Regions from separate parts of the Homo sapiens genome. Here all the other regions are reported to be linked to region 2. Evidence: microRNA targets listed by miRTarBase, many of them from high-throughput screens and not tested one by one. Region 2 holds a microRNA gene; each other region holds the end of a gene's coding sequence.
What was found. The annotated mature microRNA hsa-miR-515-5p reads UUCUCCAAAAGAAAGCACUUUCUG and lies in region 2 at 1,084-1,107, shown strand. An mRNA with a match to its seed (bases 2 to 7 or 8) in the 3' UTR can be bound and repressed. Matches are read on the target gene's strand: a 7mer-m8 pairs with bases 2 to 8, a 7mer-A1 pairs with bases 2 to 7 and ends in A, and an 8mer does both.

Region 1 (3,241 bases), not on the chromosome of region 2:
AGTCCTCCCCCAATCTCTAGGGATCAGAAGAACCCCAGAGTAACCCAGTTTGGAGGTACTCTATGTCCTGACTCGCCTTATTTAGGACATTACAAAAATCGCTGTATAAAAGTAAGACAGCTGATCTAAATCCCAGAACTTTTCCAAAATCTATTTGTCATAAAGTTGAAAAGTAAACATTTTCCATTATTTATTGGCACCACATTTACGAATCCATTTGCCTTCAGGCTTCCTGCCTGTCTGGTGGAATTCAGGTTTGCTATGGGAAAGGATGAAGCAGATCCTAATGAAAAAAGGAAGATCTTTCAGTAACTGAAATGAAACCTACAGCCAAGGCAAGTCAGACCCAGAACACAGTTAATAACCATTAGTTAGTTCCACTGTATTCTTATTTTACATCATCCCAGATTATTTTTATCTCCTTAAAACATAGGCTTATAAGACAATTTAAATATTTTTGTTAAAGCAGTTATGGTCAATGCCCCACTGTGTCTGCAATTAAAAAAATACGTATCCTGAATATTTGGGTATGAGATTTCTGCTTTGATTTTACTCCAGAAAAACCAATTACAACATGTAATCAGGCATTTCCAGGCTTTGAAGTAAGTAAAAAGAATCCAGTCTCCTTTTCTCCAAATTCTTAGAGATGTTGAGTAGGATCCTAAAAGGCTGTAATTCACACGTTAAAACCCTGCTGAAAACACTCTCCCCTTGCATTTTGGAAGAGAGACATCACTCAGCGGGAATGGCTCCCTCAGAATCCAGAATACACCTGTTAGCCAGCTGACCCTTGTTCTAAAGTGATCCCACAATTCCTAAGATGCTCTCAGGCAGCAAGTTCTACAGTATCTCTACTGTTAGGGAATCCAGGCTGAGGAGTCACTTTAAACAAGATCAGTTCCTCTGTGGAAGATGCCTTTTGGGGACCTCTCCAAGATTCAATTTTATACACAATTGATACTTAGTTCTGTAGGTAACATGAAATCAACAGAAATATTTTGGAAACAGAAACTCCTGAAAATCACAGAAACATTTTAGCAAGTTGTGTTCCTGGATGTCTCCTGAAACCAGCCTGACAAAAACTTTGTATGAAGATGAGTTTTAATGCCCTTTAAAAAGCTCTTTTCAGTCCATGATGAATTGCCAGAATGAGTACACTGAGGCAAGGCCTTGTCCGGTGCTGAGACAGACATTAAAACAATGGTACCATGATTAAATAAGTTTTTTATTGTCACATTTAACTGCTTTGTCAGATATACATTGTAGATTTCAGTATGGCATCAAAATAAAAATATTTTCCTGAATGTCAAAATCTGAACAGAGGAGACGGTAATGGCACTTAAAAAAAAATAAATTCACACTGGCGCTGAAGCTGCGTAGTAGGTAGCTGATAACAACTGGAACACATTTGCAGATAAAGTGGTCTGCAGCGTTTTAAATCAAATGGCAGTGGTGTAAGGCCAACATAACCAGGAGAGTAGTTAAAAGACAGACCCCCATAGAGTGGCGATCCAAAGAACGGCAGTTCTAGCATTTCATTTTCCGTCTATATGATACTGTCTAATTTAGTATTGGAACTGGAGCTCAGTGAGTAAATGTGTATCCTATAAACTGAAACTACTTTTTCAGAACCCAGATTTTAAGCCTTCAACAACTTCCTTATTCTTACAGATTTTAACTAGTTCAAAGGGAAGGCAGTTAAACTCCAAGTATTAACCTCATGGCTGTCCTTGTCATAAATGGTGGGTCTTGCTGTTTCCAAACCAGAAGCTCAACATGCTCCTGAATGTCTTAGTGGTTTCAGACGTTGTGGGCAAAACTAGAAAACAAGTAGTCATTAAATAAAAATATAAGTGCATCCCAAGAGAGTCTCTACACATACTGCAATTATTCCCCAAATGGCAACTTAAAATAAAATAAGTATGGTTATTCAGCTTGAAAATGAATCTTTATTCACCAAGATTCCCAAACAGTTTATTATTAAATGTCTTTCCTCCACAGATAAAACTAACACTAGGATTTGTCAGAAGATCTAAATGAGTTATATCTCCTCTGTATGAACTCAGCTAAACCTACCGTGTCTGGAATCTGTTCATTATAAAACTCACTCCTTCTGTTCTCCACTGCTGTGTGTCCTCCAAGATTCCAGAACAGAGACCATAAATGTGCCAGTGCAACACAGTAGTCACTGTAATCCATCAAAGAAAAAATAATTAATTTATTTTATGACGTATTTATTTGGATGATTACTTACTGGTAATTAGTATCTCTACTTTTTTTTTTTAAAGGCAACCATTTTAAGTGATAATACATATCAAGCTAGTAGAAAAAAGTTGGAAGCCCTCTCTTTTATCTCACAAAGTCATGCAGACAAGAGAAGGTATATCTGATTTGTTCTAATCAGGCTTCTTGGAATTATCAAAATTTCTTTTCTGGCAAAGATGAATTTGGCTCATCATAGAAAGAAGTTCTTTGAAGGCTGCTGCTAAACTTGTTTCCCTTTGAAAAAGTAAATTTCAAGGCATGATAGTGCAAGAGGTAAGTTTTTGATTTATAGAACATTTATAGACTAATTGTGCTTAGTCTCTAATTTCCAATTTATTTTAAAGAACAGAAACTACGCTGATAAGTTTCACTTTGCCTAAATTTACCAGTATATCCATGAATCGCACCAGAATTAGGACAATTTGATTATCTTAATGATTCTGTCATGAAACTTGCACACTGTATCCAAAGGTAAAGAGCAGCGGATGGAGGCTCCCACAAGTTCTGTGCACAAGGACTCTCTTCTCGGGAGTTAAGGTATCTGAGAAAGCAGTTCTCCCCCCAGATTAAGTTCTCAAAAACCCTCTCAGTAAGCAATGAAGAAAAACAGTGCTAGGTGGAGAGTTTCTTTTGTTTAGTTAAATCTGGGAGGTCTGAGTGTTCCTGGGGTCCTCGTCGGGATGTGCCATGGGTCGAGAATCCTTTGAATGTGAGTATTCACTATTAGAAGGCTCTGTAGGGTCAATCAAATTTTCATAATCACTGTCGTCTGAATCCTCACCACTGTCTCCAGCTGCTCTTTGGGGAGGAGGAAGGTCAGCCCCACTTCCAGGATACTTCAGTCCGGCACTGGTGGAAGCATAATTGGAAGAGCCCACAGCTTGAGGTCGAGGCATAAAGACACTCCTTTCCATGCGAGAGTGGCTCAAAGTACTTTCTTGATTGTTTGGGTGAAAATCAGAGTAAGGGGGAGGAG
Region 2 (3,258 bases):
ATAGAAATCCCTGAGAGTCACTTCCCTTGGCTGACATCTCCATGTTCCTACCCATTACCTTCCAAAGGAGACCCTTAACTGAATTACCAAAGGGGGCTTCCCAGAGCAGGGAAACCCGGTTAACTTTCTATTTCAGGTCAACAGTATACTTGAGATGTACTTGAACTAGAAATGATTGGTTGTTTAGGTGTGGGCATTTGTTTTTCCTAACTTAGTCTCCAAGAAAAAAAATTATTGAGGTTTTACAGCCTAGCCTGTGGTCTATCCTGAAGAATGTTCGTGTGTGTGACAATGTACATTCTTTTTTTCCCCCCAGCTCTGTCAAATCTTACTGAGGAGCTTTTACGGCCTAGCCTGTGGTCTGTCCTGGAGGGTATTTGTGTGTACAACAATGTATATTCTTAAACATTATCTTAGATTCCATTTTGGATGTTCCCATCAGGACTGTGTGTTTCTGTGCTGGAACTCAAGTGAACACTGGCTCAACATCCTTAGAAATCCAGCCCAATTCTCTTGGTTAAAGATAAGGTATGTGTGGTAGGCATTGCTTTTTCTCTTTGGGGACAAAACTCAGGAGGATTGCCCCTTGATGAACAAGGCTAACCTGCTAAGCCTTTGAAGCAAGGAACTGGAGATGGTCCTTTCAGGGGTTTATGTTCTGGATTCCATAAAACATGCAAACAGGGGCAATGAATGCACCTTTTTTATTTTTATTTTTATTTTTTTTTGAGATGGAGTCTTACTCTTGCCAGTCTGGAGTGCAGTGGCACGATCTCGGCTCACTGCAACTTCTGCCTCCTGGTTCAAGTAATTCCCCTGCCTCAGCCTCCCGAGTAGCTGGGACTACAGGTACATGCCACCACAGGCGGCAAATGGTTGTATTTTTAGTAGAGACGGAGTTTCACCATGTTGGCCAGGATGGTCGTGGTCTCTTGACCAGCCTCCCAAAGTGTTGGGATTCCAGGCGTGAGCCACCGCGCCTGGCCAATGAATGCATCTTTATTTTTGTGTTCATTTTAATCTGGTAAGGTAAATTCCAACAAAAAACCCAGAGTTTTGGAGTGAGAAGATCTCATGCAGTCATTCTCCAAAAGAAAGCACTTTCTGTTGTCTGAAAGCAGAGTGCCTTCTTTTGGAGCGTTACTGTTTGAGAAAAACCACGTTGAAGTTGATGCTGATCTTGGTAACACATTTGCAGAGCGTGCTTATCATCAGACTTGCATGATGTTGGGGTTCTGTTTTTGTTTAGTTTTTTTGCAACACAGGGTCTCTTGCCCAGGCTGGAGTGCGGTGACACTTCCAACCTAGACCTCTTGGGCTCAGTTGGTCCCTGCCCCCACCCCCTCCCCCTTTTTTTTCTCTTGAGACAGTCTCTCTCTGTGGCCCAGGCTGGAGTGCAGTGGTATGTTCTCTGCTCACTGCAACCTCTGCCTCCCGAGTAGCTGGTATTACAGGCACATGCCACCACGCCTGGCTAATTTTTGTATTTTTAGCAGAGACGGAGTTTCATCATGATGGCCAGATTAGTCTTGAACTCCTGACCTTAGGTGATCCACCTGCCTCGGCCTCGCAAAGTGCTGGGATTACAGGCATGAGCCACTGTGCCTGGCCCACAACGTATATTCTTAAATATCATCTTAGATTCCATTTTGGTTGCTCCCATCGGGACTGTGTGTCCCTGTGCTGGAACTCAAGTGAACACATGGCTCAAAATCCATTGCTGTTCTCTAGAAATCCAGCCCAATTCTCTTGGTTAAATATAAGGTATGTGTGGTAGGCTTTGCTTTTTCTCTTTGGAGACAATACTCAGGAGGGTTGCCCCTTCGTGAACAAGGCTAACCTGCTGAGCCTTTGAAGCAAGGAACTGGAGATGGTCCTTTTAGGGGTTTATGTTCTGGATTCCAGAAAACATGCAAACAGGGACAATGAATGCATCTTTATTTTTGTGTCCATTTTAACCTGGTAAGGAAAATTCCAACAAAAACCCAGAGTTTTGGAGCGAGAAGATCTCATGCAGTCATTCTCCAAAAGGGAGCACTTTCTGTTTGAAAGAAAACAAAGTGCCTCCTTTTAGAGTGTTACTGTTTGAGAAAAACCACGTTGAAGTTGATGCTGATCTTGGTAACGCATTTGCAGAGCGTGCTTATCATCAGACTTGCATGATGTTGGGGTTCTGTTTTTGTTTAGTTTTTTTGCAACACAGGGTTTCTGTTGCCCGGGCAGGAGTGCGGTGGCGCTTCCAACCTAGACCTCTTAGGCTAGTTGGTCCCCCCTACTTTTTTTGTTGTTTTTGTTCTTGAGACAGAGTCTCACTATGTGGGCCAGGCGGGCAGGCAGTGACACATTCTCTGCTCACTGCAACCTCGGCCTCCCAAGTAGCTGGTATTATAGGCACGTGCCACCACGCCTGGCTAATTTTTGTATTTTTAGCAGAGATGGAGTTTCACCACATTGGCCAGGTTAGTCTTGAACTCCTGACCTCAGGTGATCTGCCCGCCTCTGCTTTCCAAAGTGGTGGGATTACAGGCATGAGCCACCCTGCTCGGACTGCAGGGTGTTTTTTTTTTTTTTTTTAATTATTATTTGTATTTTTTTGTGCTGCCAAAGCAAGCACTTGTGTGTAGGAATTTTGTTTGTTTGTTTGTTTGTTTGTTTGAGATGGAGTCTCATTCTTGTCGCCCAGGCTGGAGTGCAGTGGCATGATCTCGGCTCACTGCAACCTACGCCTTCCGGGTTCAAGCGATTCTCCTGCCTCAGCCTCCTGAGTAGCTGGGATTTCAGGTGCATGCCGCCACCCCGGCTAATTTTTGTCCTTTTGGTAGAATCGGGGTTTTGCCATGTTGGTCCGGCTGGTCTCAAACTCCTGACCTCAACTAATCCACCTGCCTCGGCCTCCCAAACTGCTGGGATTACAGGCATGAGCCACCGCACCCGGTGAGGAGTTATTTTTAATGTGAGCAAACAGTATATTCTTTTTTTTTTTTTTCATAGACAGGGTCTCAACAATATATGATGTATATTTAATCATATAGTCTTATCATGTATATAATGTAGTCATATGTACACCAAACCCTGTTCTACACACGGAGAATACTCTTGTATCACTTTGGGTATTTATTTACTTGTTTCTTTCTGTGTTTTTCTTGTTTGTTTGTTTGTTTTGTTTTGAGACAAGGTCTAGCTTTATCACCCAGGCTGGAGTGCAGTGGTGCCATGTCGACTTACTGCAACCTCCACCTGCCACCTCAGCCTCCTGAG
Region 3 (3,258 bases), not on the chromosome of region 2:
CACACACTCGCACACACAGCACTTCAATATACATCCCAACACAGATTACAGAAAAGTACCTGCAATCCCTCCGTTCCTCTCTGCAACTTTGACTCTGGCTTTTGGTTTCCGTGCCTCAATTGGAAAAGGTAAGTTAGATTGTTGTAAAACCCAAAAACATTTAGGAAAAGGTCACATCTGCTGAGTAAGCATTTTTGAAACAGGTTTGCTGTGGCCTCTGCCAAACTTTGAGGGGCCTTTGTTCCACTCAGACCCTGCGCCAGTCCTCCCTCTCAGTTGTGGAGACACTTATCCTCCTCTTCAGTTAATGAGTTTCACCTAGTCTGGCCATTTGTATTTTTATAAAAGATCTGCAAAGCACTAATTGCAAAAAGAAGAAAACAGCTCGTTTTGCATTAATCAGAAGGTGGGATTCTATGGTAAAAACATTTCTATTTTAAGCTTCAAGAATCAAACCTTTCCCTAATTTCAGGATATGCACACATACAGTCAGTCAGTCTCTGGGTATAGAATGTTAAGCCCTTTGCAGCAATTATTTCTGGCTTGGGGTTTTTTACTCTTTAAAGGAATGCTGAAAGGAATAAGATATGCCCACACAAAATACACTTCCAGAAAATATTGTATATAAAAGTTGTTTCTTCTTAATGTGACATATTTCTTAAAGAAAGTGCACTTCTTCAGTCTAAAGGATTTTGTTCCAGAAATAAACTGTTCATGAAGACTCATTTTCTTTAAATATGTTACCCGGAGCCCTTGGACTATAAGCTATTATTGTTTTTGTAGGTATTGGACTGTAACAAAAAACACTGCCAACCATGTGGGCTTTTAGAACGTTTTCTAGAAGTAAAATTTCAGAATTATGGTACTATTGTGAGGAAATCAAACTAATATAAACAAACATTTTGAAATTTGGCACATCAATAATAGATTTGCTAGCTTAGTTAACATTTCTAAAGTCATTTCCATTAATATGCCAAAAACACCCCAAGTTGAGAGAATTTCCTGTGGGTGTACTGTAGCGTTTTCTTACAAATTTGTCTGCTCAGATTATTTGTTCTTACATAAAATGTTTTAAAAATTAGATCTCATTTTCTAAAAATTCTTTTACGGCCCCTTGATAAAGGGTGATTCCCTTGCTTCTTTAGTGTTTTTTCTCCCTCTGTGAAAGAAACTGGAGTTTTAAAAAATTACTATACAAGAGTCTAGAAAAAGTGCAAGTTTAACTTCTAAAACACCTTCTTATGAATTCAAGTTGCACATTCAGAAAAATGTTCTAACAATGAAGTGAAACACAATGTTTCAGCCCCAAGCTGTAATTCTAAAATCTCAAATGTAGAAGAGGTTTAGGGTCTCCGGTAACTATTTGTTTTGATCATTTGCAAATCATGCTTTATCCATGTTATTTCTTTAATTTTCATTAATTATTTATAAGCACAAATTCGTCAGCTTTTAGTATTTTTAGTCCACTACCAGTCATTTATGAGTAAACTGAGCTGTGTTGTCACATCATGACAATTAGTATTTTAAAAACACATCAAGCCATGTATAAACTTAATGAAAAAGAAATGACCACTTGACTTTTAGAAAAAAGAACTTGTTTCTTTTAAGTTATATTTAAATATCCATTAGAAACATAGGAAATATAAATCGGCATATTAAAGAGTAAATACATTATTTGTACAATAAAACACCAACAAAACCAGTGCAACTCCTAAGTTCTAAATATGGTGGAAAAATTATATTGTAGTTACTTATTCCTTATATCTTGATTACAATTCAATAAATCACCTTTCTTCTTCTTGTCATGCTTTGAATATAGATTAATTGATGTCAATTTTAGAAATTTTACTTGTTTGTTCTAGTACTTTATCAAGGTATTCAAATTCAGACAAGAAAATACCTCAAAGAGAGTAAATACCATGTTTACAGAAGGATAGGGTTATTTATTTTCTCAGTTGATGTTGGGAGACCAGATTTCATATACAAATAGTATACAACCTTTCTTATGGTGAGCTGCATCTTAGGGGGGAAAATCCTCTTTTAGCGTAACATACAAACACTCACTTGCCAAATAATCATCAAAACATTTTGAAATCAGCATTAAATTTAAAAAGCTCCATCAATCCATATAATCAGTATTTTATTTTGATTCCATTGCTCTATTACCTAAATGGCAATAATTCCTCTGCAATAATGTTGCTATGTGTATGATCCACCTTGAGCTACACTTCAATTTACTTTCAATCAAACATTAATGAAATTGCACTTAGGGGGCCCTTCGAAAATTAATCTCCCAAGATAAATTCCACTTCAAAAAGGACTGATTGTTAAAGCTGGGTTGATTTTTATAGTTACAAACGCCAACAAAGTTTCCAACTTTGAGAGCTGTAGTTAAGAATGCCGTGTGAACTTCTCCACCTTTTCGCGTCATTTAAGAACTTCTAGGAGGAGAAAATCACCACCTCAAAGCCTCGTGGCATAATGTTACACTACTCGGTTTCCGGGCTGTCGCTGTCCCCCGCCCCCAGCAAGAGGTTCACAGCCTGCTCCTCTCTGAGACCGGTTCGTTTTGAATCGCAGTTTACACGCGCGAGTCGGTTTTCGCATGCCTCCCCCATCCGTTCTAGCAGTTTCTTGCAGACCCTTCGGGTGCACCAGGACCTAGCCCCGGGGCGCCCTCGCTGTCACCACGTCCTGCCATAGAGCAGGTTGGCGCCCAGGACGCCGCCGCTGTACTCCCCGGCGGCCGCGTCCAGGGCCGCCAGGCCGCCCCCCGGGCCGTGCAGCGCGGGTGGGCTGGGCGACAGCTCCTCCAGCTCAGGTGCTGGCGTCGGGGCCGGCGGCTGCGGACCGGCCTGGCCGGGGGTGGGCGTGCTGGCGCCGTTCTGGCACGGCTTGCCGTCCTTGACCAGCACAGGCACCGCCACGCGGCGCGGGGACGGCGGCGGAGGCGGCGGCGGGCCCAGGCCGCCCTCCTGCTGCAGCTGCTGCGCCGCCTTGTCCTTGGCCTGCCGTTTCATCTTGTACCGGTGGTTCTGGAACCAGATCTTGACCTGCGTGGGCGTCAGGTGGATCATGCTGGCCAGGTGCTCGCGCTCGGGCGCCGACAGGTACTTCTGCTGCTTGAAGCGCCGCTCCAGCTCGTAGACCTGCGCCTGCGAGAAGAGCACGCGGCGCTTCCTTCGCGGAGCGGCTGCCGCCGCCGCCGCGTGCAGCGGGCCCAGCGACTTGGCGGCGTCCGCGATGCCGGTCAGCGAC

Region 1: miRTarBase lists ABRAXAS2 as a target of hsa-miR-515-5p. Seed matches in the 3' UTR shown: 7mer-A1 at 2,117-2,123.
Region 3: the mRNA of NKX2-4 is a reported target of hsa-miR-515-5p. Seed matches in the 3' UTR shown: 7mer-A1 at 2,411-2,417.

What each region holds. Positions count from the first base shown.
Region 1 is chr10:124,834,634-124,837,874 of GRCh38, reverse strand. It overlaps ABRAXAS2 (abraxas 2, BRISC complex subunit), which reads right to left. Exons shown (of 9, transcript NM_032182.4): 9 at 1,208-3,241. The coding sequence ends at 2,904. Among named protein-coding and RNA genes, the nearest start is that of ABRAXAS2, 34 kb to the right of the region's middle.
Region 2 is chr19:53,677,933-53,681,190 of GRCh38, forward strand. MIR515-1 (microRNA 515-1) reads left to right here and starts at 1,071; the gene lies at 1,071-1,153. It overlaps MIR519E (microRNA 519e), which reads left to right and starts at 2,008; the gene lies at 2,008-2,091. The region is part of intron 2 of LOC107985342 (a long non-coding RNA gene); the gene reads left to right. RefSeq lists an enhancer at 1-263.
Region 3 is chr20:21,393,227-21,396,484 of GRCh38, forward strand. NKX2-4 (NK2 homeobox 4) reads right to left here. Exons shown (of 2, transcript NM_033176.2): 2 at 2,139-3,258. The coding sequence ends at 2,685. Among named protein-coding and RNA genes, the nearest start is that of NKX2-4, 2.7 kb to the right of the region's middle.